Regions from separate parts of the Homo sapiens genome. Here region 2 is linked to region 1. Evidence: fine-mapped expression QTL. A gene starts in region 1. The other region holds a variant in brackets. All regions are shown on one strand. Distances are between the middles of the regions. Region 1 holds the start of TMEM205 (transmembrane protein 205). Region 2 holds the start of TSPAN16 (tetraspanin 16).

Region 1 (14,680 bases):
CAGCTACTCGAGAGGCTGAGGCAGGAGAATTGCTTGAACCCAGGAGGCAGAGGTTGCAGTGAGTTGAGATCGCGCCATTGCACTCCAGCCTGGGCAACAAGAGGGAAACTCCGTCTCAAAAAAGAAAACAAAATAAATAATAATAATGATAATAGTAAAAGGTGACTGTTATATAGCACTTGTTATATGCCAGACTGCATTCAAGTGCACAGTACTCAGCTAATACAGACACCTGATCAGGTAGGGAGGAGTGTTTTTTTTTGTTTTGTTTTTTGTTTTTGTTTTTGGTGTTTGTTTCTTTTTTGAGACAGGGTCTCAGTCTGTCGCCCAGGCTAGAGTGCAATGGTACTATCAGGGCTCAACGCACCCTGAACCTCCAAGGCTCAAGTGATCCCCCTACCTCAGCCTTCTGAGTAGCTAAGTCTACAGGCATGTGCCACCACACCCTCTTGTTTTTTTTGTTTTTTGTAGAGACAGGGTTTTGCCATGTTGCCTAGGCTGGTCTTGAACTTCTGGCCTCAAGCAATCCAACCACCTCAGCCTCCCAAAGTGCTGAGATAACAGGCATGCCACAGCACCCAACAGGATGAGTTTTCTTTTTCTTTTTCTTTTTTCTTTTTTTTTTTTAAGATGGGAGTTTTGCTCTTGTCGCCCAGGGTGGAGTGCAATGGCACGATTTCGGCTCGCTGTAACCTCTGCCTCCTAGGTTCAAGCCATTCTCCATCCTCAGTCTCCTGAGTAGCTGGGATTACAGGTGCCTGCCACCACACCCAGCTAATTTTTGTATTTTTAGTATAGACGGGGTTTCATCATGTTGGCCAGGCTGGTCTCGAACTTCTGATCCACCCACCTCAGCCTCCCAAAGTGCTGGGATTACAGGCGTGAGCCACCGCGCCCAGCCAAGATGAGTTATTATTACATCCATTATACAGATGAGGAAACTGAGGCTCAGAGAGGTCAAGTGACTTGCCCACAGTCACACAGCAGTGAGTGGCAGAGCTGAGATTTGAACCCAGGCTCCAATCTCATGGTGGAGGCTGGCCAAAATCCCCATCCCTCCCTCTCCCACTCCTCCCCAGGGTCCCCATCTCCTCCACTCACTTTGCGGCATTTCACCTGCGTTTTCTGCATTTTCTGAATGTTCACCAAGTTCTCTGAGATCTCATCCTCCTGCGCTTCTGTGGAGGGAGGGGGCTCAGGCGGACAAAGGCTGAAGAAGGACCCCCTCCCCACACACCGGCTGTGGGCTCCAGGAACTCACGGAGCTTCTGATAGATGAAGGTCACCTCCTCCCGCACCAGTTCCAGCTCCTCCCACAGGAACTTCTTGCTGAGGGGACAGTGCAGCCTAGACCTGCACTCCCTGCCTGGCCCCTGACCTCCCATGCCCCTATCTGTGCCTCCACCCATCCCCGCAAGCTCTGTCCCCTCCCCACACTTCCCTGCCCTTTTCCCCTCCCCTTCTACAATCCCCCTACCCTCATCCCCCTCCTCTCCTTCTGATCCCCAGCCTCCCATTCTCTCAGTCTCTCCCACCCCACTCAGCCTCCTATCACCTGGCCTCCACCTCCCCACCTCCTGTCCCCCGACTTTCTATACCCCCAGTCTCCTGTCCTCTCAGTCTTCCCTGCCATCCCCCTTTCTGATCCCCTGGCCTCCTTTTCCATCCCACCTCCAGCTTTCTGTCTTCCCTGCCTTCTGGCCTCTCAGTTTCCCACTCCCCCGCCCCCACCAGCCACCTGTCTCCCCTGAGCCTCTCATCCCCTCCTCATTTTTTTTTTTTTAGACAGAGTCTCGCTCTGCCGCCCAGGCGCCCAGGCGCCCAGGCTGGAGTGCAGTGGTGCGATCTCAGCTCACTGCAACCTCTGCCTCCTGGGTTCCAGTGATTCTCCTGCTTCAGCTTCCCTAGTAGCTGGGATTACAGGCACCCGCCGCCATGCCTGACTAATTCTTGTATTTTTAGTAGAGATGGGGTTTCACCATGTTGGCCAGGCTGGTCTCGAACTCCTGACCTCAGGTGATCCGCCCATCTCGGCTTCCCAAAGTGCTGGGATTACAGGCATGAGCCACCACACCCGGCCTCATTCCCTCTTCTTGTCCCTCAGGCTTTCCACCATCCCTCAGTCCCCCTCCCCCAGGCATCTGCCATTTCCCCCATCCTGCCTCCATTCCCCAGTTCTGGGTCTCCCTTCCCTCCTGTGGACTCCAAGCTGCCCTCCCGCCATCCCCGACCTGTCCCGGATCTCCTGGGCCAGCAGCTGCAGGCAGCGAGTGGTGCGGGCCCGCTGCATCTCCTCACTGTCACGCAGGGTCTTCTCCAGCCCCTGAAGGCCTTGGGTCAGGGCCCCATACAGCTCCTGCCGGCCCTGCTCCATGCCCCACTTGTGCTCCTCCTTCTCTCCCTGGCGGCCTGTGGGGCTCAGCACCTCTGCAGAGAGTGTGGGACCTTGACTGAGCCCTGATCCCACCCTGAACCCAGCTTGTCCTAATCTTGACCCAGAACCCAGACTCTCCCAATTTCCCTCACCCTGGCCTGGCCCAGCTGATCCCAACAGGACCAGCTTCCAGCCTGACTTTTTTTCTTTTGAGATGAAGTCTTGCTTTGTTGCCCAGGCTGGAGTGCAGTGGCGTGATCTCGGCTCACTGCAACCTCTGCCTCCCAGAAAGCAATTCTCCTTTCTCAGCCTCCTGAGTGGCTGGGACTACAGGTGCATACCACCACGCCTGGCTAATTTTTGTATTGTTAGTAGAGATGGGGTTTCACCATATTGGCCAGGCTGGTCTCGAACTCCTGACCTCAGGTGATCCACCTGCCTCAGCCTCCCAAAGTGCTGGGATTACAGCCATGAGTGACAGCACCTGGCTTTTTTTTTTTTTTTTTTTAAGTAGATATGGGGTTTCACCATGTTGTCCAGGCTGGTCTCAAACTCCTGACCTCAAGTGATCCAACCTCTTTGGCCTCCCCAAATGCTGGGATTACAGGCGTGAGCCACCACGCCTGGCCTAGCCTGACCTTGATCTCTGGTCAGTCCTCACCTTCAAGCTGCTGAATCTTGATTTGCTGCAAGCAGCTCTCCTTCTCCAACATGGTCACTGAGTGGTTCAGGAACTCGAAAGCCTGGGGGAAAGAGGTCAGCCTTGGGGTGGGAGGAAGGAGGGGAGGGCAAGGAGAAACAGAGGTTGCTGGGGGCAGGGCCAAGGTGGTTCACCTTGGTCTGGGCCTGTAACTGGCTCTTGAGTGACTCAAGTTCACATCGCAGGAGCTTCTGGGAGTCGGGAATCATCACAATGGTCTTGGCTGTGGGCAGAGAAGAGGGTGAGCCAGGGCTGTAAGGGGTGGGGTCTGGGGCAAGGGCAGGGCAGAGGTCAGCAAAGGCTCAGAGTAGCAGTAGGGACAGGGGATAAGATATAGAACAGGGGCCCACTCAGCCTTGGGCAGGAGTGAATGGGTGACCATGGCAGGGGGACAGCTGATGCTGGGGCAGAGGGTAGAGGTAGAAACCAGCAGGTCTTCCCCACACAGTTTTGTTGGAAAGGAGATTTCTCACCTTTGACTTTGGAAGAGCTGGTCTCCAAGGGCTTCTAAGGAAGAGAGATGAGATGGGAGTAGAAATTTGTCCCTGAGCTGCCTCCTTGCTCACCTCAACCCAGTTTTGAGGGCTGGACAAGAGTTGGATCTCCTCAGTTCTAGGTGTCCCAAACCGTAAGTGCAGGCAAAGCTGCACTCCAGGCATATTCATGCACCTCCCCCTTGGGCTACATATGCTCAGAAGTGCACTTATGTGGCTGAGAGACGATCACAGCCAAATCCCCATGGAAGACACACAACCACACTCTTTCCTTCCATTCATTCCTTCATCCATTCATTTAAGACTTGCTTAGCCAGGGCCTGCTGAGTGCCAGGTGCTGTTCTAGGTGCTGAAGAAACACAGTGGGTGCATTCATGGGAGTCTCTCTGCCTTACAGCCCCTTCCCTAAGCCCCACAGCAGTAGATTGCAGTGGTTTTCTGCATTGAAGGGGTTTCCCGGGTGGGGGTGACCTTAGCTACGTTGTGATGCCTCTTCAAAATGTCCTGGTCATTACAGCACTGCTTCTGCAGGTCTGGACTGGGGGAGGGGGCAGCCTCATGTGGCGAAGGCCCTGAGCCCCACCCTGGCCTGCAGTCTGCAGTCCTCACTGTGTCCCCAGAAGCAGGGCATCCCAAGGTCTCTGGCTCTGGAGTCCTGGACCAGTGAGCTGTACGCTCCAGAGCCTTGTCCGAGGAAGAGCCTAGGGGTGAGGGCTTCCTTGAGGGACAGTGCAGGGCACTCCTCACATTCCCAGCCCCTCCCAGTGTCCCCAGCCCTATGGGAGCCCCCTAACTAACCCCAGTACTTGTCACACTTCATGTTAGCAGGCAAACACATGCTGGAGGGTGAGGGAGGTGAGTAGAGGCAGGACACAGAGTAGTCAGGGTCCCGGGGTAGGCCGGCCAAAAGAGGGTCGCTGTGAGTAGGGAAGCAGGGGCTGCTTTGAGATAAGTCCCCATGTCCCCAGTGCCCCCAGACCCTCCCTGACATGCCAGAGAGGCCTCAGCCCTAAACTCAAGGCTTCTCAGTTATGGTAGGAGCCAAAGCTGGATAAAAGATGATCCCAAGGCCAGACGCGGCCAGCAATGGTGGCTCACGCCTGTAATCCTAGCACTTTGGGAGGCCAAGGCGGGAGGATCACTTGAGGTCAGGAGTTCGAGACCAGCGTGGCCAATATGGTGAAACCCCGTCTCTACTAAAAATACAAAAACTAGCTGGGCATGGTGGTGGGCGCCTGTAATCCCAGCTACTCGGGAGGCTGAGGCAGGAGAATCACTTGAACCCGGGAGGCGGAGGTGGCAGTGAGCCGAGATTGCACCACTGCACTCCAGCCTCAGCAACAGAGTGAGACTCAGTCTCCAAAAATAAAAAACAACAACAAAAAAGATTATCCCAGCCCCAAGGTTTGGGCTGGGCAGTGAGAAGGACCCAGAAGGCCCCAAAGAAAAAAAATCAGGCCTCAGAAGAGTCCAAAGAAAAAAGGGACCTTGACATTGGCTTAAAGGAAGGCCTTTCCTGGCAGGGAGCAGCATGTGCAAAAGCTTGGAGGTGTGGAATCACATGCTCTATGCTGGTAAATTCATGATGGCTGAATCGAGGTCCGAGAGGAAGCAGCAGGAGGTTAGCAGAGCAGCTCCAGTAAGGCATTGACGGCCAAGCCAGGAGTTTCGACCTGGCCCCACAGGTGAATGCCAGCCATAGAGTGTGAGCAGGAGAGGCAGGGCATATCTGTTCAATAAATGTTAGCTGAATTGGGGCCCAGACCCGTGCTAGAAGAGGCTGGAAACAGGAAACAGCTGAGCTCTGGGTCTCACATTCAACTCCCCTCCCCCTCCAGTATAGCCACATATGGCACAGATGGAGATATCTGGGGCAGGTCTGCCTGGAGAAACTTCTAGGTGAAAGGCACCTTGCCCTGAGTCACACTCAGCCTCTTCCCCCAAATCCTCTAGACCTTTCTCTCTGTCACCCTTGCCAGGCCCTCTGCCTGATTCAGTCGACCTGGAAGACTCCTACACGCTCTTCAGAACTACTCAGGCTGGGCACGGTGGCTAACACCTGTAATCCTAGCACTTTGGGAGGCCAAGGCAGGTGGATCACCTGAGGTCAGGAGTTCGAGACCAGCCTGGCCAACATGGAGAAACCCCATCTCTACTAAAAATACAAAATTAGCCAGGCGTGGTGGCGCATGCCTGTAATCTCAGCTACTTGGAAGGGTGAGGCAGGAGAGTCGCTTGAACCTCAGAGGCGGAGGTTGCAGTGAGCCGATATCATGCCACTGTGCTCCAGCCCGGGCAACGAGAGCGAAACTCCGTCTCAAACACAAACAGACAAACAAAAACTATTCAGCATATCTTCAGTAAAATCTTCCTTAATCCTTTTTTAGGCTCCTATTTTCTGAGCACCTAATTGAGTGCCGGGCATCCCCTAAGCATTCACTGGATCTTCACACCCACCCTGTGATGTACACGTTTTTCTTCTGCCTGAAATGTCCTAAGCTGCCCCTCCGAGAGTCACTGCCTCAGGGAGGTCCTCACTTCCAGGGACAGCAGAGTATGACGGTTAAGCAGGGAAACTCTCCAGCTAGATGGCCTGGGTTCAAATCCTAGCTCTGTCCCTTCCAGCTGTGTAATACTGGTCGCGTTACTGAACCTCTCCATGCCTCAGTGTCCCCAACTATAAAAACGAGATGTCATAATAGTCACCTTACTGGGATGTTGTGATTAGATAAATTAATCCATGCCAGTGCCTGGTATAGAGTAATGGGGAGCTGTGTTTGCTCTGGAATGTCACGCTGAGAACCCGGGACTTAGGGACCATAGGAAGCCTGGGAGGCTTGGAGGGGAAAAGGAGAGGCATTTGAGAACCAGCTTAGGTCCCCAGTAGTGCCTCCTCTCTCCCCGTCCCATCCCGGTTGCTGCTTCCGTGTCCCTCCCGGGAGAATTATTTAGGGAGGGGGCGGGGTCATCATCCTGGCTCCGCCCCCTGGGTTGTGAAATCTACACCCGCCAGGCTCCAGAACCCCACCTACCACATACCACCTGTTCATGCTCTCCCATCAGGGACCACGAAGCCAGTCCTCAGCTGTGACGCTGAAGTTTGATCCCGCGGGGACACCATCGTATTAAAACGCTCAGAGACTGAGTCACAGAGAGGGGTGTGGCCGGCATTTTAGTTCCGCCCCTGCCGGAGTAGCCGAAGGCCTCATTGGCGCCTTCACGCTTCAGCTGCGCTTAGTAGCCGCGGCGTAATTGGATAAAAGCCCGTGGAGGGGGCGGGATCCCAGGGGGGTTTCTACGATTAGTCAATACCCAGGAGGGCGGGATAGAAAGGTGCAGATCTACGACCCGATTGGCTTCGGGCTCAGCTGGGAGGCGGGACGAATTATTGGTTGGGGGAAACCCACGAGGGGACGCGGCCGAGGAGGGTCGCTGTCCACCCGGGGGCGTGGGAGTGAGGTACCAGATTCAGCCCATTTGGCCCCGACGCCTCTGTTCTCGGAATCCGGGTGCTGCGGATTGAGGTCCCGGTTCCTAACGGTGGGATCGGTGTCCTCGGGATGAGATTTGGCGTTTCCTCGGGGCTTTGGTGGGATCGGTGTCCTCAGGATGAGATTTAGGGTTTCCTCGGGGCTTTCGGGATCTTCACCTAATATCCGGTATTATTTTATGAGAGGAGTGGTCTTGGCTGTCAGAACTGGATCCCTGGGGTGATATTTGGGAATTAGTGGAGTGATCTCTGAAGACCTAGGGCTATGATCTGGAGCTGCTGTGGCTGAAATTTGGGGCCTCTGAAGTGGCATGGAGATTGAGGTCCAGAGAGCCTGAGATCTTGAGGGCTGACATTTGGAGAGATGGGGTCGAGGGTTGTCTTTGGGCCTTGACTGCTTTGGGCCTTTCTCACTCTCATTCCCGGGATGCTTTGCCAGAATCTCTGCTGGATTGGCCGTAACCCTGTCCCCGAGCGGGCTCACAGGGTCTGAAGGCCACGCATGAGGCAAAGGTAAAGTTCTGAGCCACCCGGTGCCTCCTTCCCAGGACTGCAAGATGGAGGAAGGCGGGAACCTAGGAGGCCTGATTAAGATGGTCCATCTACTGGTCTTGTCAGGTGCCTGGGGCATGCAAATGTGGGTGACCTTCGTCTCAGGTAGGGACCCTCAGCTTGGATGTCATGGGTACCTGGGGTGGGGATGGAAATAAGAGGGGAACCGGGAAGTGCCCTAACACCCCTGTGGTCCCCATACCCTGCAGGCTTCCTGCTTTTCCGAAGCCTTCCCCGACATACCTTCGGACTAGTGCAGAGCAAACTCTTCCCCTTCTACTTCCACATCTCCATGGGCTGTGCCTTCATCAACCTCTGCATCTTGGCTTCACAGCATGCTTGGGCTCAGCTCACATTCTGGGAGGCCAGCCAGGTACGTGGGTTTGAGTGCCACTGCCCTCTGGAGACTTGTTCCCAGGACCTCAGTCAGCGCCTATGGCTACACCTTTTCCAGGGGGGGAAAAAAAAAGGCTAGGCATGGTGGCTCACGCCTGTAATCCCAACACTTTGGGAGGCCGAGGTGGGCGGATCACGAGGTCAGGAGTTCAAGACCAGCCTGACCAACATGGTGAAACCCCGTCTCTACTAAAAATACAAAAAAATTAGCCAGGCGTGGTGGTGTGCACCTGTAATTCCAGCTACTCAGGAGGCTGAGGCAGGAGAATTGCTTGAACCGAGGAGGCAGAGGTTGCAGTGAGCCGAGATCATGCCATTGCACTCCAGCCAGGGCGACAAAGCAAGACTCCATCTCAAAAAAAAAAAAAAAAAGGAAAGGAAAGGAGAGGAGAGGAAAGGAGAGGGGAGGGAAGAGGAAGGGAGGGGAGGGGAGCCCCTTCTTCCTGGTAGATACAAAGCTGGGCTCTGGATACCCTTGAGCAGTGCACAGCCTGTACAACAGTCCCCAGCAGCCCTGTCTATCCCCCAGCATCTCCCTGCTAGCTGCTGTTCCCTCTCCTCCCGCTGGCTGGGCCTGCTGCCAAGCTGTGGTGACTCAGCTGAGCTGGCACATTGACCCCAGCTTATTGTTTAAAAACCAGCCCGACTGGGAATTTATGGTTTCCTATCCCCTTCCACACATTTTTCTGGCCACAAGGCAAGAAACTATCTCTGCATCTCAGATTTCTCTATTTACTCTGGCCTTCCCTTGCCTGCATTATGTTTCATAGACGTGGGTAAGTGAGACCTGACAGGTGTTTCAAGAATAATCTCACAGACAGGAGGGGATTATGGGTAACTAGAACTTCACAGACTGTTTTTTTTTCCTTTTATTTATTTATTTTAATGAAACAGGCTCAGAAGGTATTCAAATACTTAAAACAGATAGAGATGGTGTTATAGCAATGTGAGAATGGCAAAAACATTTTTCCTAATTAAAAAAAATAGGCTGGGCGCAGTGGCTCATGCCTGTAATCCCAGCACTTTGGGAGGCTGAGGTGGGTGGATCACGAGGTCAGGAGCGCGAGACCATCCTGGCTAACATGGTGAAACCCCGTCTCTACTAAAAATACAAAAATTAGCTGGGTGTGGTGGTGTGCGCCTGTAATCCCAGCTATTTGGGAGGCTGAGGCAGGAGAATTGCTTGAACCCAGGAGGCGGAGATTGCAGTGGGCCAAGGTCACGCCATTGCACTCCAGCCTGGGCAACAAGAGTGAAACTCAGTCTCAAAAAAAAAAAAAAAAAAAAAGATGAGGGTCTTTGCTGTGTTGTTCAGGCTGGTCTTGAACTCCTGGCTTCAAGTGATGCTCCCACCCCCATCTCTGAAAGCACCGGGATTACAGATTACAGGCATGAGCCACCATGCCTGCCTTCAAAGACTTTTTGTTTTGTTTTGTTTGTTTTTGAGACAGGGTCTTGCTCTGTCGCCCAGGCTGCAGTGCAGTGGTGCAATCTTGGCTCACTGCAACCTCTCCTTCCCGGGTTCAAGCAATCCTCATGCCTCAGCCTCCTGAGTAGCTGGGATTACAGGGGGACAGCCCCCACACCTGGCTAATTTTTGTATTTTTAGTAGAGACGGGGTTTTGCCCATGTTGCCCAGGCTGTCCTTGAACTCCTGGCCTCAAGTGATCCACTCACCTCAGCCTCCCAAAGTGCTGGGACTATAGGCATGAGCCACTGCGCCCAGCCACTCAAAGACTTTTTATTCACCCTCTGTGGGTCCAATGTCAGCTTCAGGCGTCTGGGCTGTGGCCACTGAGGAAAGAGATCCTGCTCTGGGGACTTCCAGTCTGAGTATCAGAGGAGAAGAGGCTCGGGAGGTTTTGCGGGGGGATAGAGGAGGTGGGGATGGAGCCTTTCCTTCAGAGCTGCCAGTTTCAGAGTAGAAGAGCTGGAGTTCTGCTTTGGGTCCCTCAGTCTGGGTTCAAGGAAAGAGGGGGAGGCAGGTTTTTTGATCCAGTGCTGTCCCCACCCCCACCCCTGTGCTGTTGAGGATGCAGAAAGACCCTCCCTAGGGCCCCTCTGGCCTCCCAGGCATGGCTCACCTTCTCCTCTGCTCTCCCTGCCAGCTTTACCTGCTGTTCCTGAGCCTTACGCTGGCCACTGTCAACGCCCGCTGGCTGGAACCCCGCACCACAGCTGCCATGTGGGCCCTGCAAACCGTGGAGAAGGAGCGAGGCCTGGGTGGGGAGGTACCAGGCAGCCACCAGGGTCCCGATCCCTACCGCCAGCTGCGAGAGAAGGACCCCAAGTACAGTGCTCTCCGCCAGAATTTCTTCCGCTACCATGGGCTGTCCTCTCTTTGCAATCTGGGCTGCGTCCTGAGCAATGGGCTCTGTCTCGCTGGCCTTGCCCTGGAAATAAGGAGCCTCTAGCATGGGCCCTGCATGCTAATAAATGCTTCTTCAGAAATGGCTGCTGTCTTTTTTTTTTCCCCCATGAGAAGCAGGGGGAGGGGCAGGCAAGGGTAGAGCCAAGAGCCTCAGTTTCCCCATTCATGAAGCATGATGGTTTGGAGTGTCAGCCATTTTATCCTGTAAGCCTCTCCTATAATGATGCCCATTTATTGAGCACCTGCTGTATACCAGACATGTTGTTAACCACTGACATATCATGTATTATTTGTTTTGTTTTGTTTTGTTTTGTTCTGTTTTGAGACGGAGTTTCACTCTTGTTGTCCAGGCTGGAGTGCAGTGGTGCGATCTCAGCTCCCTACAACCTCTGCCTCTGGGTTCAAGCGATTCTCCTGCCTCAGCCTCCTGAGTAGATGGGATTACAGGCATCCGCCACCATGCCTGGCTAATTTTTTGTATTTTTACTAGAGACAGGGTTTCTCCATGTTGGTCAGGCTGGTCTTGAACTCCCGACCTCAGGTGATCCACCCGCCTTGGCCTCTCAAAGTGCTAGGATTACAGGCATGAGCCACCATGCCTGGCTGTTTTGTCTTTTTTTTTTTTTTTTTTTTTGAGACAGAGTCTTGCTCTGTTGCCCAGGCTGGAGTGCAATGGCATGACCTTGGCTCACTGCAATCTCCGCCTCCCGGGTTCAAGCGATTATTCTGCCTCAGCTTCCTGAGTAGCTGGGATTACAGACACCTGCCACCACGCCCATCTAATTTTTGTTATTTTTAGTAGAGACGGAGTTTCACTGTGCTGGCCAGGCTGGCCTTGAATTCCCGACCTGAGGCCATCTGCTCGCTTCGGCCTCCCAAAGTGCTGGGATTACAGGCGTGAGCCACCACGCCCAGCCTGTTTTGTCTTGTTTTTGACAGGGTCTTGCTCTGTCACCCAAGCTGGAGTGAAGTGGCGTGATGATAGCTCATTGCAGCCTCCAACTCCTGGACTCAAGCAATCCTCCCACCTCAGCCTCCAAAGTAGCTCGGACTACGGGCGCCAGCCACCAGGCCCAGATGGTTCTGATCCTAGAGGACAATCATATTTCCCACCCTACTGACATTGGGGGTGGCCATGTGACTTGCTTTGGCCAATGAAATGTGAGCAGAGGTGGCATGTGTCCCTTCCAAGGAGAAGTATTACAAAACAGTACATAATTTGCTGCATTTTCACTTCACAAAACAACCATCATGGGAACCAAACCTTAGCTGTTGGGGCCGTGAAGTCTTTGGGAGTGCTTGTTACTAAGCATAACCCAGCCCTTCCTAACTAATGCACTTCATCCTCATTCATCCACGTGGCAGCTCTTGAGGCAGCTACTTTTGTTCCCACGAGGCAGTGGGGGCTCAGAGAAGTTCAGCAAATTGAGTAAGGTGGAATTGCTGGGATTCCAACACCAGCAAAACCTGGGTATTTCACAAAGGGATCCAACCCACTTTAACTTTCTTTATTTAGAGATAAAGTCTTGCCCTGTCACCTAGGCTGGAGTGCAGTGGCACAGTCATAACCTACTGAAGCCTCTCTCTCTCCCAGGCTCAAGCAATCCCCCTGCCTCAGCCTCCGGAGTAGCTAAGACTACATGTATGTGCCCCCATGGTCAGCTAATTTTTTTTTCTTTTTTCTTTTTTTCTTTTTCTTTTTTTTTTTTTTTTTTTTTTTGTGGCCAGCTAATTTTCAAAAAAATTTTTTGTAGAGTTGGGATCTCTATGTTGCCTAGGCTGGCCTTGAACTCCTGAGCTCAAGGAATCCTCCTGCCTCAGCCTCCCAAAGGGCTGGGATTACAGGCATCAGACACTGTGCCCAGCCTCATTTATTTTTTAATTTTTTTTTTTTTTTTTTTGAGACAGAGTCTCACTCCATCGTCTAGGCTGGAGTGCAGTGGCGCGATCTCGGCTCACTGCAACCTCCACCTCCTGGGTTCAAGCGATTCTCCTGCCTCAGCCTCCCAAGTAGTTGGGATTACAGGTGTGCACCACCATGCTCGGCTAATTTTTGTATATTTATTTATTTATTTGAGACAGAGTTTCGCTCTTTTTGCCCAGGCTGGAGTGCAGTGGCGTGATCTCGGCTCACTGCAACCTCCGCCTTCCGGGTTCAAGCAATTCTCCTGCCTCAGCTTCCAGAGTAACTGGGATTACAGGCATGCGTCACCACGCCTGGCTAATTTTGTATTTTTTAGTAGAGACAGGGTTTCTTCACGTTGGCCAGGCTAGTCTCGAACTCCCGACCTCAGGTGATCTGCCCACCTCGGCCTCCCAAAGTGCTGAGATTACAGGTGTGAGCCACCGTGCCCAGCCCCTAATATTTGTATTTTTTTTTTTTTTTTTTTAGTAGAGATGAGGTTTCACCATGTTGGCCAGGCTGGTCTTAAATTCCTGACCTCAAGTGATCCGCCTGCCTTGGCCTCCCAAAGTACTGGGATTACAGGCATAAGCCACCGCGCCCAGCTCTCGTTTATTTTTATTTATTTGAAACAGGGTCTTGCTCTGTTGCCCAGGCTGGAGTGCTGTGGTGCAATCAAGGCTCACTGCAGCCTCGATGTCTCCAGCAATCCTCCTGCCTCAGCCTCCCAAGTAGCTGGGGTTACAGACGCACGCCACCACACCTGGCTAATTTTTGTTATTTTTAGTAGAGATGAGGTCTCCTTACGATGCCCAAGCTGGTCTCAAACTCCTGGCCTCAAGTGATTCTCCTGCCTCGGCCTCCCAAACTGCTGTAATTACAGGCCACCGCGCCTGGCCTAGCCTACTTTAAGGCCGGCACTGCACTTGACAAACACTAACTCAGATCAGAATCCTCCCACAACTCTGTGAGGTTGGGTACTCTCGCTATGAGCTACTTGACGGATGGGGAAACTGAGGCTCAAAGAGGTTAAGTAACGCGTCCAAAGCCACAAGACTAGAAAGTGGTGGAGCTGGGACTCGAACCAGGCCCAAGACTCTATGCTTTTAACAGCCGTGCGTATAGTAGAAGCTCTTTACAAGCAGCTGGGAAAATGAGATGTTGCTTGGCTAGGACGGGCTCTAGACGCTTGGTGCAGCTTCCAGCCCCTCCCACCCGCTCTCTGAAAGCCCCGCCCAAGACTCGGCCCCTCTTCGTCCTCCCCCATCCCCCGCTCCGGGAACGGCCCTTCCTCCGCCTTCTGGGCGGAGCCCGCGCGGGATCCGGGTGGCTGCAGGCTGCTGGCTTCTGCGGCTGCGGGGTCGGGGTCGCGGCCAGGGCCAAGCCGCAGCGAGTTCACAGGCGGAACCCCTGCAGGCGGCGCCCCCTACGCGAGGTCACCCCTGGGAAGGAGCGCAGCCCACCCGGCCCCTCCGCATCCGAGCAGGTCTGTGGGGTACGGGGGTTTGGGAGGAAGGTAGGGGGTCTGGGGAACAAAGGCGGGGCTGCGGGGAACGCCTCTGCCCTCGCCCCCACCCAGCTGGGCACTTGGGAAGCGCTGATGGGGCGCGGGCGGGGCAGAGAGCCCAGCTGGGGACAGGCGTTGGGACCATATGGTGATGGGGGAAACTCCTGAGTCCACCTGCATTGGCTGGGGCGCCCCAAATCTAGTGAAGGGGAACAGAGGCGAGCCCTCCGGGGCCAGGCTTGAGGGAGGGTCGGCAGATGGTTAGAAAGAGGCGGGACCGACTGACACAGGTGAGCTAAGGCTGGGGGAGGTGGGGGCCCCAGCCTTGCGGCCCTGCCCTGCGTGGGGAAAGGTTTCCTGCCTCTTCTCTTCCCCTCCTTAAACTCGTTCTCCTGGAACACGGGGTGGGGCCGGTTGGGTCCTGGTTTAAAATGGAAAAAAGCCCCAAAGGCAGTTGAGAAATAGCTGTGCCAGGGCTGTCTCTGCCTCTGCCCCGCCTGCATCCAGGCCTTCTGCAGCCTCTCCGTGCGGTTCCCGCAGCGGCCATAGACAGCTGGGGAAACTGAGGCCTGGGAGAGGTTATGAGGGTTGAGGGAGCACCTTGGACTCGGATGAAGCAGCATGTTGGAGTGTGGGCAGATTCAAGGAGCCTAGCCGTGGGACAGATTGCCTGGAAAGACCAAGGGTGGGCGGCAGTGGTCGTGGTGGTGGGGTTGTGTTAATTAAGTGGCTGGGATCGTTTCCTTGGGTATAAGGACTCTCACTCCTGCCTCCGTGGACTGGGGCTGGAGTGAGTCAGCCTTGGGCAGAAGGAGACAGGCCTGGCCCCTTTGACAAATAGAAAATAGCAGTACCCATTTAGGGGGTAGAACTGGACTCTAAACCTGGGCCCT
Region 2 (14,680 bases), 52 kb after region 1:
AATCCTTTTGCAAAGCGATGATAGAGGCACGTGGTTCGAAATTGACATGCACAGGAGAACAGACCATGAAAAGTCTCTCTCCCACCCCTTCCTCCCAGCCAAAAGTTTCCTCCCACTCCATGCCAATGACTGTTAACTGTTTCCTGTGTCCCCAAAGAGATGTTCTTCTATGTGTGTCAAAGCAAAGTATATTTTCACTATTCTTCCTCTTTGGTTTATGCTGCACTCATTTTTCTGCGTCTGGCTGTTCTCGACAGGAGTAGCAGGGGCTCTTGGTGGCCTGCCCATAACTCTGTGGCCCTTGTCAGTTCTGTGCCTACTGGCCTGACTCCCTAGTGCCAGCAAGTGAGGATTCTCTGGCCTCTGAGCCCACATGCCCCCTGGGAGCAGCCCTCCATCAATGGCTGGTTGGAGTTGGTGGATCAATATCCCAGCTCCCTCTCCACTTGAGTGGAATAACCTAGGTGCATGTTCTATGCTGTGCCCAGCATCCCCTTTTGTGGGCTGTCTTCCCTTACCTGCCTCATTTGCCATGTCCCCTGCAGGTGTTTTCTGGGATCACCTCTCAAATAAACCACATGCCTTTGAATTATTGTTTCAGGGTCAGCCTCTGGGGAGGATGCCAATGAGGACGGCACTCTATCCTGGAGAGCATTCCATCTGGTGCCCAGAGAGCCGCCTCCTTCCCTGTACCTGATGTACAGGATTCCACTGTGTCGATGTATTTTAACTTGCCTAAACCCTTATTCATACTCACTAGGTTCTTTGCAATCTTTCTTTTTTCTTTTCTTTTCTTTTTTTTTTTTTTTCTTTTTTTGAGACAGAGTTTCACTCTTGTTGCCCAGGCTGGAGTGCAATGGCACAATCTCAGCTCACTGCAACCTCTGGCTCCCGGGTTCAAGTGATTCTCCTGCCTCAGCCTCCTGAATAGCTGGGATTACAGGCATGTGCCACCAGGCCTGGCTAGTTTTTTTGTATTTTTAATAGAGACGGGGTTTTACCATGTTGGCCAGGCTGGTCTCGAACTCCTGACCTCAGGTGATCCACCTGCCTCGGCCTCCCAAAGTGCTGGGATTATAGGCGTGAGCCACCGCACCTGGCCCTCTTTGCAATCTTTCACATGCCCTGGCATGAATGTGATTCTGCACACCAGCAAGTGAGTTCTTGAATAATTCCCAGAGATGGGACTGCCAGGTCAAAGTGCTGAAGCTTTTGTCATTTGGATGGATTTTGCTAAATTGTCCCTCTATTTTGAATACATTTCAAAACCCCAATCAATATGCAAACACTTCTGATCATCTCCCCTTCTCCTGCCACCAAACCCAAGAGGGATGAACTAAATGAACTCAGCAGGTTTTGTGAGGACTTGGAGAGGCAGGCTGAGGATTTCAGCTTCTCACACCATCAAAGGTGGCACGTGTGATGGGCCCCTCCATCACTGGGTCCCCACAATCGATCATGGGTGCCTGGCGGGGAGGGGCGGACTTCTATTGGTTCTATATCTTTTTTTTTTTTTTAACGGAGTCTCATTCTGTTGCCCAGGCTGGAGTGCAGTGGTGCAATCTTGGCTCACTGCAACCTCTGCCTCCCGGGTTCAAGGGATTATCCTGCCTCAGCCTCCTGAGTAGCTGGATTACAAGTGCGTGCTATCACGCCTGGCTAATTTTTTGTATTTTTGGTAGAGACGGGGTTTCACCATGTTGGCCAGGCTGGTCTCAAACTCATGACCTCAGGTGATCCACCAGACTCAGCCTCCCAAAATGCTGGGATTAGAGGCGTGAGCCACTGTGCCCGTCCTTGGTTCTTTATCTTTCTAATGCTATGTGGGAGGAGCAGGGCTGTACTTACAATTGGAAAGAAAAGAAGGACCACTGTGGCAGCTGTAACTTCCATGATGAGGACAATAACCATTGACAGGATGCACTAAAAGACACACGGGGAGAGAGGGCCTGGGAGCCTGCTCAGCCTCCTCCCGACCTTATACCCTGCAGGTGAGGGGTTGTCTCTGTTCCCCCGACCCTCCACCCCAGGCCACCCTGGCCTCTCCAGTTTAAAACAATTCGACCGGGAGCAGTGGCTCAACACTTGTAATCCCAGCACTTTAGGAGACCGAGGCGGGTGGATCACGAGGTCAGGACTTCAAGACCAGCCTGGCCAACATGGCAAAATCCCGTCTCTACTAAAAATACAAAAATTAGCAGGGCATGGTAGGGGTGCCTGTAATCCCAGCTACTCGGGAGGCTGAGGCAGGAGAATCGCTTGAACCTGGGAGGCAGAGGTTGCAGTGAACCAAGATTGTGCCACTGCACTCCAGCCTGGGCGACAGAGTGAAACCCTGTCCCCGCAAAAAAAAAAAAAATAGGTGACACCAAGCAAAGTTGTTTGCAACACGCACAATAAAAGATTTGTGTGTGTGGGGAGGCAGTTCTGGGGTCTGTGTGCAGATCCAACTTACAAACAAGAGCGTGCCTCTGCTCTCTTTAGTCGCTCCATACCACCCGGCACAGCCAAGCAGTACCGTGATGCATCCCATCACCAGGCACAGGTTGCCAACGTGAAGGAGGTATGCGGAGGACAGCCCGAGGACATTCGTCAGAGAGGCCCCTCCACATTTACCACCAATGCCCAGGCCAACTAGGATGATGCCAGACACCTTTAGAACAGAAACCAGAAAGGAAGAAAAGTAATCTGTTAGTTGTATACAAATAGAACTGGGTGAGTGCGGTGGCTCATGCCTGTAATCCCAGCACTTTGGGAGGCCAAGGCCAAGACTTGAGCCCAGGAGTTCAAGACCAGCTTGGTAAGACCTCATCTGTACCCTCTCCCCAACAAAAAAAAAATAGCCAGTAGTAGTGCGTGCCTGTAGTCTCAGCTACTCAGGTGTCTGCAGTGGGAGGATCACTTTAGCTCATGAGGTTGAGACTGCAGTGAGCTATGACTGTGCCACTGTACTCCAGCCTGGATGACAGATCAAGACCTTGTCTCAAAAAATAAAATAGGCCAGCCACAGTGGCTCACACCTGTAATCCCAGCACTTTGGGAGGCCGAAGCAGGTGGATCACCTGAGGTCAGGAGTTCGAGACCAGCCTGGCCAACATGGCGAAACCCTGTCTCTACTAAAAATACAAAAATTGGCCGGGCGTGGTGGTGGGCACCTGTAATCCCAGCTACTCAGGAGGCTGAGGCAGAAGAATCGCTTAAACCTGGGAGGTGGAGGTTGCAGTGAGCTGAGATCATGCCACTGCACTCCAGCCTGGGTGACAGAGCAAGACTCCGTCTCAAAATAAAATAAAATAAAATAAAATAAAATAATGTCATAGGACAGGGATTAGCAATTTTTTTTTTCTGAAAAACCCAGATGTTGTGGCCTCTGCAGGACTTAAGGTGTCTGTTGAAACTACGCAGTTCTATTGGTGTAGCCCAAAAGCAGCTGTTCACAATCTCCAAATAAGTGAGCACGGCCATGTTCCAATAACACTTTATTTTGTATTATTATTTTTTAAATAGAGATGGGGATCTCACTATAGCTGGTCTCGAGCTCCTGGCTCAATGGATCTGCCCACCTCGGCCTCCCAAAGTGCTGGGATTACAGGCATGAGTCACCACAGCCGGCCTTAATTCTCTTTAAAATGTTACAAGTGAAGAGGAGGAGTGATATTTCATTTCCTTCTCTTTCCTGGCAGCTTTTCCTTAGACTATGCTACAATGAAGACAATTACTTCTTTTTATGTTTTTATTCTTTTATTTTTTTATTGAGACAGAGTCTCGCTATGTTGCCCAGGCTGGAGTGCAGTGACACAATCTCGGCTCACTGCCAACCTCTGCCGCCCAGGTTCAAGCAATTCACATGCCTCAGCCTCCTGAGTAGCTGGGATTATAGGCACGTGCCACCACGCCCATCTAATTTTTTTGTATTTTTAGTAGAGATGGGGTTTCCCCATATTGACCAAGGCTGGTCTTGAACTCCTGACCTCGTGATCCACCCGCCTTGGCCTCCCAAAGCGTTGGGATTACAGGCATGAGCCAGCGCCCCCGGCCTGACAATTCCTTAGCAATGTACATTTCGGGTTACTTTTACGGTAAGGAAAAAAATGTGACAAATTTAAAAGATCAAGAAAATAACCCTTTCTCCTGGCCTTCCCAAACAACTTGGTCGGCTACAGGATTTGACTTAGAGCCAAGCTCTTCCATCACCCACCTGGGCTCCCCCAGATCACACTCATCTGTGCTGGATTTCACCAGCTCTCGGTTGATGGAGGTCCCCACGCTCCCTGCTCCTCCTCCTCCGTCTGCCCTACATCCCTCCTGCTTCTCCAGGGAACCACAGATCTCGATGCCAATTTGGATCAACTTATTTCTGTCTTTCAGGGAGCTGACTGTGGAGGAAGGGCTGCAACAAACCAGGGGCCTGGATTGTGACATACTTACAGCCACGAAGCCATTGAGTAAAGATAACAGTTTCTTCAAGGAAGAATACGGAGTGTGGATTTCAGCCATGCTGAACAGACTGGGGCACCCTGAACATTTAAGTTAACATCTTCCTGAACCTCTGGGCTACTGTTTCCCAAGATGATAGGGATCTGAGGAAGGGGCGCCAATGCTGACTTGCTCTGCCCCTCTGTGTCCTGGCTGCCTGATGGTTGTCCAAGGCGGCCCAGCAGCTGCCCCCTGCCCTGGTCATAAGCCTTTTATCACATCACAATTGGGTTCTGGAGCAAGGCTCATGGTCCAGGGAAATCAGGTGCCCCAAACTGCCCCCTGTTGGCTCCTCATCCTTCAAACAGGTCACAGCAGGGAAAGAGAACAGGCATGGTATGCTACCCTGGTACCCTCCAGATGCCACCAGGACCCTGTGGGCATAGTGCCCAGAGCTAACCACTTGCACAGTTGACATCTCCTAGTAGACTGGGGGATCCAAGCGGGGGAGGGGGGAACTTGGGCTGTCCTATTAACAGCTGTGACCCCTGCCAGGCGCAGTGGCTCACACCTGTAGTCAAAGCATGTTGGGAGGCGGAGACGGGCGAATCACCTGAGGTCAGGAGTTTGAGACCTACTAACAATACAAACAATACAAAAATTACCTGGGTGTGGTGGCACACGCCTATAATCCCAGCTACTTGGGAGGCTGGGGCAGGAGAATCACTTGAACCCAGGAGGTGGAGGTTGCAGTGATCTGAGGTCGTGCCATTCCACTCCAGCCTGGTTGACGGAGTGAGACTCTGTCTCAAACAAAACAAAACAAAAACAAAAACAGCTGTGTCCCCAAAGCCTGGCACTGCAGTACTTAAGAAACCCGCGGAGAATGAATGAATGGATCCAGAGGCTCTGTGATGCAGAAATCTAGCTACAAGCCACCGGGCCTCCCAAGCCCAAGCCCATACTTGGCCCATCCTTCATACAGGGCTCAGAGAGGCCAAGGGAACTGCCTGAGGCCACACAGGAAGCAAGACCAGGCTTTGAAGCCCCAAGAGTAACATGAGGGCAGGAACCTGTAAGGCAGAGAGTCCTGGAACTGTGAGCCATTGGTCACTGGGTTTTTTTCTTTTGAGACAGGATCTTGCTCCATTGCCCAGGCTGGAGTGCAGTGGTGTGATCATGGCTTACTGCAGCCACGACCTCCCTGGCTCAAGTGATCCTCCCACCTTAGCCTCCCAAGTAGCAGGTCATTGGGCTTTTCTCCATGGTGATAGATGTAGTTAGCATTTCAGGACCAAAAACCTTCTGTATGTCAGCACTGAAGACCTCCAGGCCTAGATCCTGCAGTCTGTAGCCCACTTTGCCCCCATACCTCCCCACCCTAACCATAGCAGCTTCACATTGCCCCACCCCGATCCCCTCTCTGTCCAGCCCTGGGCTGGGGTGTGTCTGGGTCCAGGTCCTGCATGGATTGGGGGAAGGCGGATGGTTCAAATGGGAGAAAATACCTTACACTTTAATTAATTTAATGAATGTCTGTCAAATCGCCTGCTTCTTGGAACATGTAGAACTAAGCAAGATGTTCACAGAGGAGTGCTGTCTCCTCCTGGACCACGGGTGCTGTTCACAGCCAGGAGTGTGTCCTTCCACACCTTTATTTAAGAGGTCATTTGAAGCCAGGCGCGGTGGCTCACGCCAGTAATCCCAGCACTTTGGGAGGCCGAGGTGGGTAGATCACGAGGTCAGGAGATCGAGACCATCCTGGCTAATGCAGTGAAACCCTGTCTCTACTAAAAATACAAAAAATTAGCCGGTTGTGGTGGCGGGTGCCTGCAGTCCCAGCTACTCGGGAGGCTGAGGCAGGAGAATCTCTTGAACCCGGGAGGCGGAGGTTGCAGTGAGCCGAGACCACATCACTGCACTCCAGCCCGGGAGACAGAGGGAGACTCCTCCGTTTCAGGAAAAAAAAAAAAAAAAAAAAAAGGTCATTTGAAGTAAGGAACCTCAGAACCAGGGGCTGAGGGCCTGGAAATGGGGGCACAAAAGAGGGTGATAAATGGGCATGCAAGAGAGCATTGGAAAATGTAGGGGGCAAAGGAGGTCTGGGAAATGTGGACTCAAGGGAAAGCAGGAAAATGGGGGTGCAAAGGAGGGTGCAGAGAAGGGGGACGCAAAGATGCGAGATGGAAACTTGGCTGCAAATGAGCAGTGGGAAAACGGGCTTAAAGGACGGTGGGAAAATGAGGCTCAGATACAAGAGAGCTGGGTGAGTAGCAGACGGCGCTGTAGACGTGGGAGCAGCTCCTGGAAGGAACTGGCCGGAAAGGAATCTGGGCCGGCTGCACGCAGCCCCGCCCCTCGACCGCCCCAGCCCCTCTACCCTCCCAGCTTCTCTGCAAAGCCGCATCTACAGCCTCGCGCGTCTCCTGGCGGCGGCCCGTGGAAGCGCGGCCCTACGTGCCGGGGCTGGGCCAGGACTCTCCCTGCCAAACACGTCCAAATGTGCCCGGGTGCCCCAGGGACCCCGCCCAGCCGGTCA[G/A]CGTCAGGAAATGAAGCAAGAATAACTTCCCGTGCCCCAGATTCCTACATCACACACCCACGGAACTTTGCAGGCATCCGACGAATTGCAAATGCAAGATACTTGCTTTTTTTTTTTTTTTTTTTTTTTGTAGAGACGCGGTCTCGCTATGTTGCCTGGGCTGACCTCTAAGTCCTAGGTTCAAGCCATCCTCCTGCCTCGGCCTCCTAAAATGCTGGGATTACAGGGATGAGCCACCGCGCCCGGCCAGGACGTTTAATATCATTGTCAAAATCATAGAAGGGCCACTCCAATACACCCTTATGGTGTGTTGAGACATTTATTTCTCCACATGCTTGGTCTCCTTTTTTATTTTTAGGGGATTAAAATTGTTTAATTTTTAATTATGTGGGCACATAGTAGGTGTACATATTTATGGGGATGGGAGATATTTTTTAAAAAGCACAATTAACCAGCCGGGCGCGGTGGCTCACGCCTGTAATGCCAGCACTTTGGGAGACCGAGACGGGCGGATCACAAGGTCAGGAGATCGAGACCATCCTGGCTAACACGGTGAAACCCCGTCTCCACTAAAAAAAATACAAAAAAAAATAGCTGGGCGTGGTGGCGGGCGCCTGTAGTCCCAGCTACTCGGGAGGCTGAGGCAGAAGAATGGTGTGAACCCGGGAGGTGGAGCTTGCAGTGAGCCGAGATCGCGCCACTGCCCTCCAGCCTGGGCGACAGAGCGAGATTCCGTCTCAAAAAAAAAAAAAAAAAAAAAAAATCACAACCAAAAAATGAAATGTGTTGAATACAATCACACACAGAATATTTATGTCAACGACCCATATTAGTCAACAAACTCTCCTCTTTTTTTTTTTTTTTTTTAATTTTCAGACGGAGTCTTTCTCTGTTGCCCAGGCTGGAGTGCAGTGGTGCGATTTCGGCTCACTGCAACCTCTGCCTCCCAGGCTCAAGCAATTCTCCTGCCTCAGGATCCTGAGTAGCTGGGATTATAGGCGCAACGCCACCACGCCCGGCTAATTTTTGTATTTTTAGTAGAGATGGGGTTTCACCACGTTGGCCAGGCTGGTCTCAAACTCCTGATCTCAAGTGATCCACCCCCCTCGGCCTCCCAAAGTGCTGGAATTACAGGCGTGAGCCACCGTGCCTGGCCTGAACTCCTCTTCTTAAATTCATGTGTTTGTTGTCAAGGGCAACAATTGGGTGTTTGGGAGCACTGAACAACAAATAGTGAATGAATGAGACCTGAGCTTGCGCCCACCCTTCAAGGTCAGAGAGGAGCGCGGCAGTAGGTTCGCCTGCTCACTTGTTCATGTAAACTTTGCGGCAGAAATGTATTTGTTTACGCCTCACAAAACCTAGATCCATCCTTGACAAAGGGGCATTTTATGGTTTCAGGTATTTTAATAGCCATCGTTGGGGAAGGAGGCAAATCAGAATCCACCATCCAAAAAAAAAGTCTGGGACACACAAAAGAAAGGTGTCTGTCCTTGCAGAGGCTGGTCCACACCTTTGGCATCAGTCACTTGTTCTAGGAGTTCCCAGGTTGTGCACCTCAGCCCTCACTGGGGACAAGCACAGAAGTGTCACCAAGTTTCAGCATCAGGGGCTGACGTCATTGTGGCAGGAGAGGAGCATGATGGTAATCATTGCTACCAAATGAAAAAAAAACAAACAGCATTTCCACCATTAGGGATTTTTTTGTTTGGCTGGTTGTTTTTTAAAATTGCATTTGTTTCCCCATGTTCACATTCTGCCTTAGGGTTAACACTTTGTGCTCTGTATGGTGGGTTGGGAGGCACTGAGGAGTGATCAGAAGACCCCTGTCAGGCCAGGCACAGTGGTTCACACCTGTAATCCCAGCACTTTGGGAGGCCGAGGCGGGTGGATCACCTGAGGTCAGGAGTTCAAGACCAGCCTTGGCCAACATGGGGAAGCCCCGTCTCTACTAAAACTACAAAATTAGCTGGATGCGGTTAATTACAGGTGGGCACCTGTAATCCCAGCTACTCAGGAGGCTGAGGCAGAAGAATTGCTTGAGCTGGGGAGATGGAGGTTGCAGTGAGCCGAGACCGCACCACTGCACTCCAGCCTGGGCGACAAAGCGAGACTCTGTCTCAAAAAAATAAAATAAAATAAGAAGACCCCTGTCCTACAGGGACACTCACTGCTTTCCCAGTTCCTCTCTCTTGCTACATAAAGAAAGATCTGCAATTTCTACCCCTTCAGCTACCTTAGCTTCTGGCTGGAAAAGAGGGAAGTGAAATTAAGGAGAACCAGGAGATGGGTTTTTGTTTGTTTGTTTGTTTTTTGAGACAGGGTCTCGCTTTGTCTCCCAGGCTGGAAGTACAGTAGTGTGATCTCAGCTCCCTGCAACCTCACCCTCCTGGGCTCAAGCGATCCTCTCGCTTTGGCCTTTAGAGTAGCTGGGACCAATGGCACGTGCCACCACGCCCGGCTAATTTTTTTATTTTTTGTGGAGACAGGGGTCTCGCTATGTTTCCCAGATTGGTCTCGAACTCCTGGGCTCAAGCAATCCTCCTGACTTAGCCTCTCAAAGCGCTGGGATTACAGGTATGAGCCACCACACCCAGCCAAGATCCTTGATAATATTAAAAATATTTAGTATATAAGGTATACCCAGGCAGTGATGAGAAGGGAGGGTTTCAGGGGTATCAACCTTGAAGGGTTAGGAGGACTGGAGGGTCCTGATGAGAGTTCAGGAAGCAGCGAGTGGCCCCAGACCAGTGCATGCAGGTGACACATCTCGAGGGGGCTTCTGTTCTTGTTAGCATGGGGGATCGGGTTCTAATTCCCTCTGTTGTCTGGGCAGCTGGTCCCAGGGTGGCCAAGACTGTTCCCATCCCATATTCCTCAAGTATCTCACTTAAACACATTGAAAAGGTTGGCCAGGTGCAGTGGCTCACGCTTGTAATCTCAGCACTTTGGGAGGCCAAGGCAGGCGGATCACTTGAGGTCAGGAGTTTGACACCAGCCTGGCCAACATGGTGAAACCCCGTCTCTACCAAAAATGCAAAAATTAGCCGGGCATGGTGGTGCATGCCTGTAATCTCAGCTACTCAGGAGGCTGAGGCAGGAGAATCGCTTGAACCCGGGAGGCGGAGGTTGCGTTGAGCCGAGGTCTTGCCACTGCACACGCCAGCCTCGGCAACACAGTGAGACTCTGTCTCAAAAAAAAAAAAAAAAGACCTCATAAATAGCTTTTGGAGATTTTATTACAGGCGGACCTGTAACAACCGCAAATGGACTTTTAAAACCTTGTGGGGAATGTTTCTCCTTCTAGGAATTCCTACTACAGATTTATTCAAATGCACATAGGCCAAGAGCTGGCAGATTTTTCTGGAAAGAGCCAGAAAGTAAATATTTTCAGCTTTGCGGACCATACCGTCTCTGTTGGGACTCTGCTATTGCAGCCATAGAAAATATGTAAATGGACAATATGTAAATATATGTAAATGAACAAGTGTGACTCTGTCAAAATAAAATGTTATTTATAATATGAGATGGTTTTGTTATTTACAAAAATGGGTGGCAGAATGTAGTTTTGCTAATGCCTGCTCTTAAGCCTCGCTTGACTTGTGAATGATTGGAAACAACAACTTAAGTGCCCTTTGTTTTTGTTTTTTTGTTTTTTTTTTAGACGAAGTCTCACTCTGTTGCCCAGGCCGAGGGCAGTGGTGCAATCTCAGCTCATTGCAACCTTCATTTCCTGGGTTCAAGCAATTCTCCTGCCTCGGCCTCCCCAGTAGCTGGGACTACAGGCATGCCCCACTATGCCCAGCTAATTTTTGTATTTTTGGTAGAGACAGGGTTTCACCATGTTGGCCAGACTGGTCTCGATCTCCTGACCTCAGGTGATCCACCTGCCTCGGCCTCCCAAAGTGCTGGGATTACAGCCGTGAGCCATCGTGCCCGGCCTTAAATGCCCTTTGAAAGTATTAGTAGCTGATTAAGTATAAGATTGTCCAACTAGAGGAAAAGATGCTCAAAAGCTGAGAAAATGAATGCAGAAATCTTTGTTGCTTTTTTGCAGACTGGATCTCACTTTGTTGCTCAGGCTGGAGTGCAGTGATGTGATCATAGTTCATTGTAGCTTCAAACTCCAGGGCTCAAGTGATCCTCCCGCCTCAGCCTCCTGAGTAGCTGAGACTACAGGCACACACTACCGCACCTGCCTTTTTTTTTTTTTTTTCCATTTTTGGTAGAGACAGGCTCTAGCAATGGTCTTGAACTCCTGGACTCAAGTGATCTGGCTGCCTCAGCCTCCCAAAATCCTGGGATTACAGGCATGAGCCACCACACCTGCTCAAATTCTTAACTAAAAGAATTGACAACGGGAGCCAGGCGCGGTGGCTCATGCCTATAATCCCAGCACTTTGGGAGGCCAAGGCTGGCAGATCACTTGAGGTCAGGAGTTTGGAGCCTGGCCAACATGGTGAAACCCCGTCTCTACTAAAAATACAAAAATTAGCTGTATGTGGTGGCAGGCGCCTGTAATCCTGGCTACTTGGGAGGCTGAGGCAGGAGAATCATGTGAACCCGGGAGGCGGAGTTTGCAGTGAGCCGAGATCACGCCACTGCACTCCAGCCTGGGCGACAGAGCGAACTCTGTCTCGAAAAAAAAAAAAGACAAATATTGCATGATTCCACTCATTTGAGGTCCCTAGAGTCATCAGATTCATAAAGACAGAAAACAGAATGGTGGGTACCAGGGAATGGAGAGGAGCGTGGGGAGTGAGTGTTTCATGGGGATAGAGTTTCAGTTTGGAAAGATGAGAAAGTTCTGGAGACGGATGGTGGTGATGGCTGCACAGCGATGTGAATGTGCTTAATGCTGCTGAACTGTACTTTTCTTTTTTTTTTTGAGACAGAGTCTTGCTCTGTTGCCAAGGCTGGAGTGCAGTGGCGTGATCTTGCGATCTCAGCTCCCTGCAACCTCCATCTACTGGGTTCGAGCAACTCTCCTGCCTCAGCCTCCTGAGTACCTGGGACTACAGGAGCGTGCCACCATGCCCGGCTAATTTTTGTAATTTTAGTAGAGACGGGGTTTCACCATGTTGCCCAGGCTGGTCTCAAACTCCCGACCTCAAGTGATCCGCCCACCTCAGCCTCCTAAAGTGCTGGGATTACAGGTGTGAGCCACCACACCCGGCCTGAACTGTACACTTAAAATGGTTAAAATGACAAAATTTTAAGTTATATATATTTTGCCACAGTAGAAAAGAAATAAATGTTGTAAAAGGAACAGGACTACAAGGCCTCCTGGTGGGAATAGAGGGAAATGACTCGGCCCGGTACCTGCTAATGTTCTCGCAGTTCCTGTAGAACTTCATGTCCAGCTCTGGTTACCGTGAGCACCACAGTGGGTTAAGTCATGTCACCACAAAATTCATATCCATCTGGAGCCTCAGATGAGACCCTATCTGAAAACAGGGTCTTTGCAGATGTCATTGGTTAAACATCTTGAGATGAAGTCAGCCTAGATTTAGGTCAGGTCCTAAATCCAATATCTGGTCAATATCTGGTGTCTTTATAAGACATAGGAGAGGGGTTAGGGGTGGTGGCTCATGCCTGTAATCCCAGCACTTTGGGAGGGCAAGACCAGAGGAGACAGGAGGCTTGAGGCCAGGAGTTCAAGACCAGCCCGGGCAACATATCGAGACCCTGTCTCTAAAAAAATAAAAATTAGCCAGGTATGGTGGCGTGTATCTGTAGTACTAGCCACTCTAGAGGCAGAGTTGGGAGGATGTCTTGAGCCTGGGAAGTCGAGGCTGCAGTGAGGTATGATGGTGCCACTGCATTCCATCCTGGGCAACAGAGCAAGACCTTGTCTCAAAAATAAATAAATAAGGTTGTTGGTTAAAAAAAAAAAAAAAAAAAAAAAGACCAGGCTCTGTGGCTCACACCTGTAATTCCAGCACTTTGGGAGGCCAAGGCGGGTGGATCACAAGATTAGGAGATGGAGACCATCCTGGCTAACACGGTGAAACCCCGTCTCTACTAAAAATACAAAAAAAATTAGCCAGGCATGGTGGCGGGCGCCTGTAGTCCCAGCTACTCGGGAAGCTGAGGCAGGAGAATGGCGTGAACCCAGGAGGCAGAACTTGCAGTGAGCCGAGATCGCGCCACTGCACTCCAGCCTGGGTGACAGAGCAAGACTCTATCTCAAAAAAAAAAAAAAAGGAGGCCAGGTGTGGTGGCTCATGCCTGTAATACCCAGTGCTTTGGGAGAGTGAGGTGGGTGGATTTTGAGGCAAGGAGTTTGAGGTCAGCCTGGCTAACATGGCAAAACCCTCTCTCTATTAAAAATAGAAAAATTAGCTGGTTGTGGTGGTGGACGCCTGTACTCCAGGCTACTAGGGAGGCTGAGGCAGGAGAATCACTTGAACCCAGGAGGCAGAGGTTGCAGTGAGCTGAGATTACACCATTGCACTCCAGCCTGGGTAATAGAGTGAGACTCTGTCTCATAAAAAAATGAGAGAGAGAAAGAGAGACAGGAGAGGAACATTTGGACACAGACAGAGGGGAGAAGGCCACAAGATGATGGAAGAGGCAGTGATTGGAGTGACGTGGCCACAATCCAGCGACCACCAGGGGCCACCAGAAGTTGGAAGAGGCAAGGAAGGAACCTTCCCCAGAGCTTTTGGGGGCAGCACGGCTCTGTTGACACCTTGATTTCAGACTTCTGGCATCCAGAACAGTGAAAGAATAAATTTTAGGGGGCTGGGCGTGGTGGCTGACGCCTGTAATTCCAACACTTTGGGAGGCCAAGGCGGGCGGAGCACCTGAGGTCGGGAGTTTGAGACCAGCCTGACCAACATGGCAAAACCCTGTCTCTACTAAAAATACAAAAATTAGCCGGGCATGGTGTCACATGCCTATAATCCCAGCTACTCAGAAGGCTGAGGCAGAAGAATCGCTTGAGCCTGGGAGGCAGTGGTTGCAGTGACCTAAGATCGCCCCACTGCTCTCCAGCCTGGGCGACAGAGGGAGACTGTGTCTCAAAAAATAAAAGAATAAATTCTTGTTGTTTTAAACCAGCAAGCTGGTGATGATTTGTTATGGCAGCTCCCAAAAATCTAACACAGACAGGAAGCAGTGGGTGGGTGATGACATATTTCAGCTGCCTGTGGGGGCTGAGAAACACAGCACAAGATTTGGGAAAAGGGTTCACATCCGGTGAAGGAGACCTTTCCTTCCTTCCTTTTTTTATTTATTTTTATTTTTTATTTTTTTATTTTTTATTTTTGACAAGGTCTCACTCTGTTGCCCAGGCTGGAGTACAGTGGCTCCATCATAGCTCAGTCCAGCCTCCAGCTCCTAGGCTCAAGGGATCCTCCCAGCTCAGCCTCCCTAGTAGCTGGGACCACAGCCATGCACCACCCCACCCAGCTAGTTGTTTTTTTTTATATATATATTATTTGTAGAGACGGGGTCTCCCTATGTTGCCTAGGCCACCACCCTGGTCCCTTTCTTCCTTAAGAAGAGAGATAATGTTCATGGCTTGCTGGTGACTTTGACTTTAAAAAAATCAAGGCACGAGGCCAGGCGCGGTGGCTCACACTTGTAATCCCAGCACTCCGGGAGGCCAAGGTGGGAGGATCACTTGAGCCCAGGAGTTCGGGACCAGCTTAGGCAAAATGGTAAAACCCTGTCTTTACCAAAAATACAAAAAATAAGCCAGGTGTGGTGGTGCACGCC

The links. PIP is the estimated chance that this variant, and not a neighbour inherited with it, causes the effect.
Region 2: its variant is fine-mapped to the expression of TMEM205 in whole blood (TOPMed, PIP above 0.99).

What each region holds. Positions count from the first base shown.
Region 1 is chr19:11,338,555-11,353,234 of GRCh38, reverse strand. It overlaps TMEM205 (transmembrane protein 205), which reads left to right and starts at 6,967. Exons shown (of 3, transcript NM_198536.3): 1 at 6,967-7,715; 2 at 7,820-7,983; 3 at 10,115-10,457. The coding sequence starts at 7,616. The coding sequence ends at 10,420. It overlaps CCDC159 (coiled-coil domain containing 159), which reads right to left and starts at 6,716. Exons shown (of 11, transcript NM_001080503.3): 1 at 6,608-6,716; 2 at 3,548-3,581; 3 at 3,209-3,297; 4 at 3,036-3,117; 5 at 2,232-2,427; 6 at 1,262-1,329; 7 at 1,102-1,178. The coding sequence starts at 6,628. RAB3D (RAB3D, member RAS oncogene family) reads left to right here and starts at 13,578. Exons shown (of 5, transcript NM_004283.4): 1 at 13,578-13,766. RefSeq lists enhancers at 2,265-2,765, 6,616-7,446 and a silencer at 13,536-13,795.
Region 2 is chr19:11,286,115-11,300,794 of GRCh38, reverse strand. TSPAN16 (tetraspanin 16) reads right to left here and starts at 4,635. Exons shown (of 7, transcript NM_001282509.2): 1 at 4,429-4,635; 2 at 2,456-2,653; 3 at 1,849-1,923. The coding sequence starts at 4,497. TSPAN16-AS1 (TSPAN16 antisense RNA 1) reads left to right here. Exons shown (of 3, transcript NR_187778.1): 3 at 1-4. RefSeq lists enhancers at 1,601-2,100, 2,101-2,602. The variant G/A (reference allele first, on the strand shown) is at 6,956.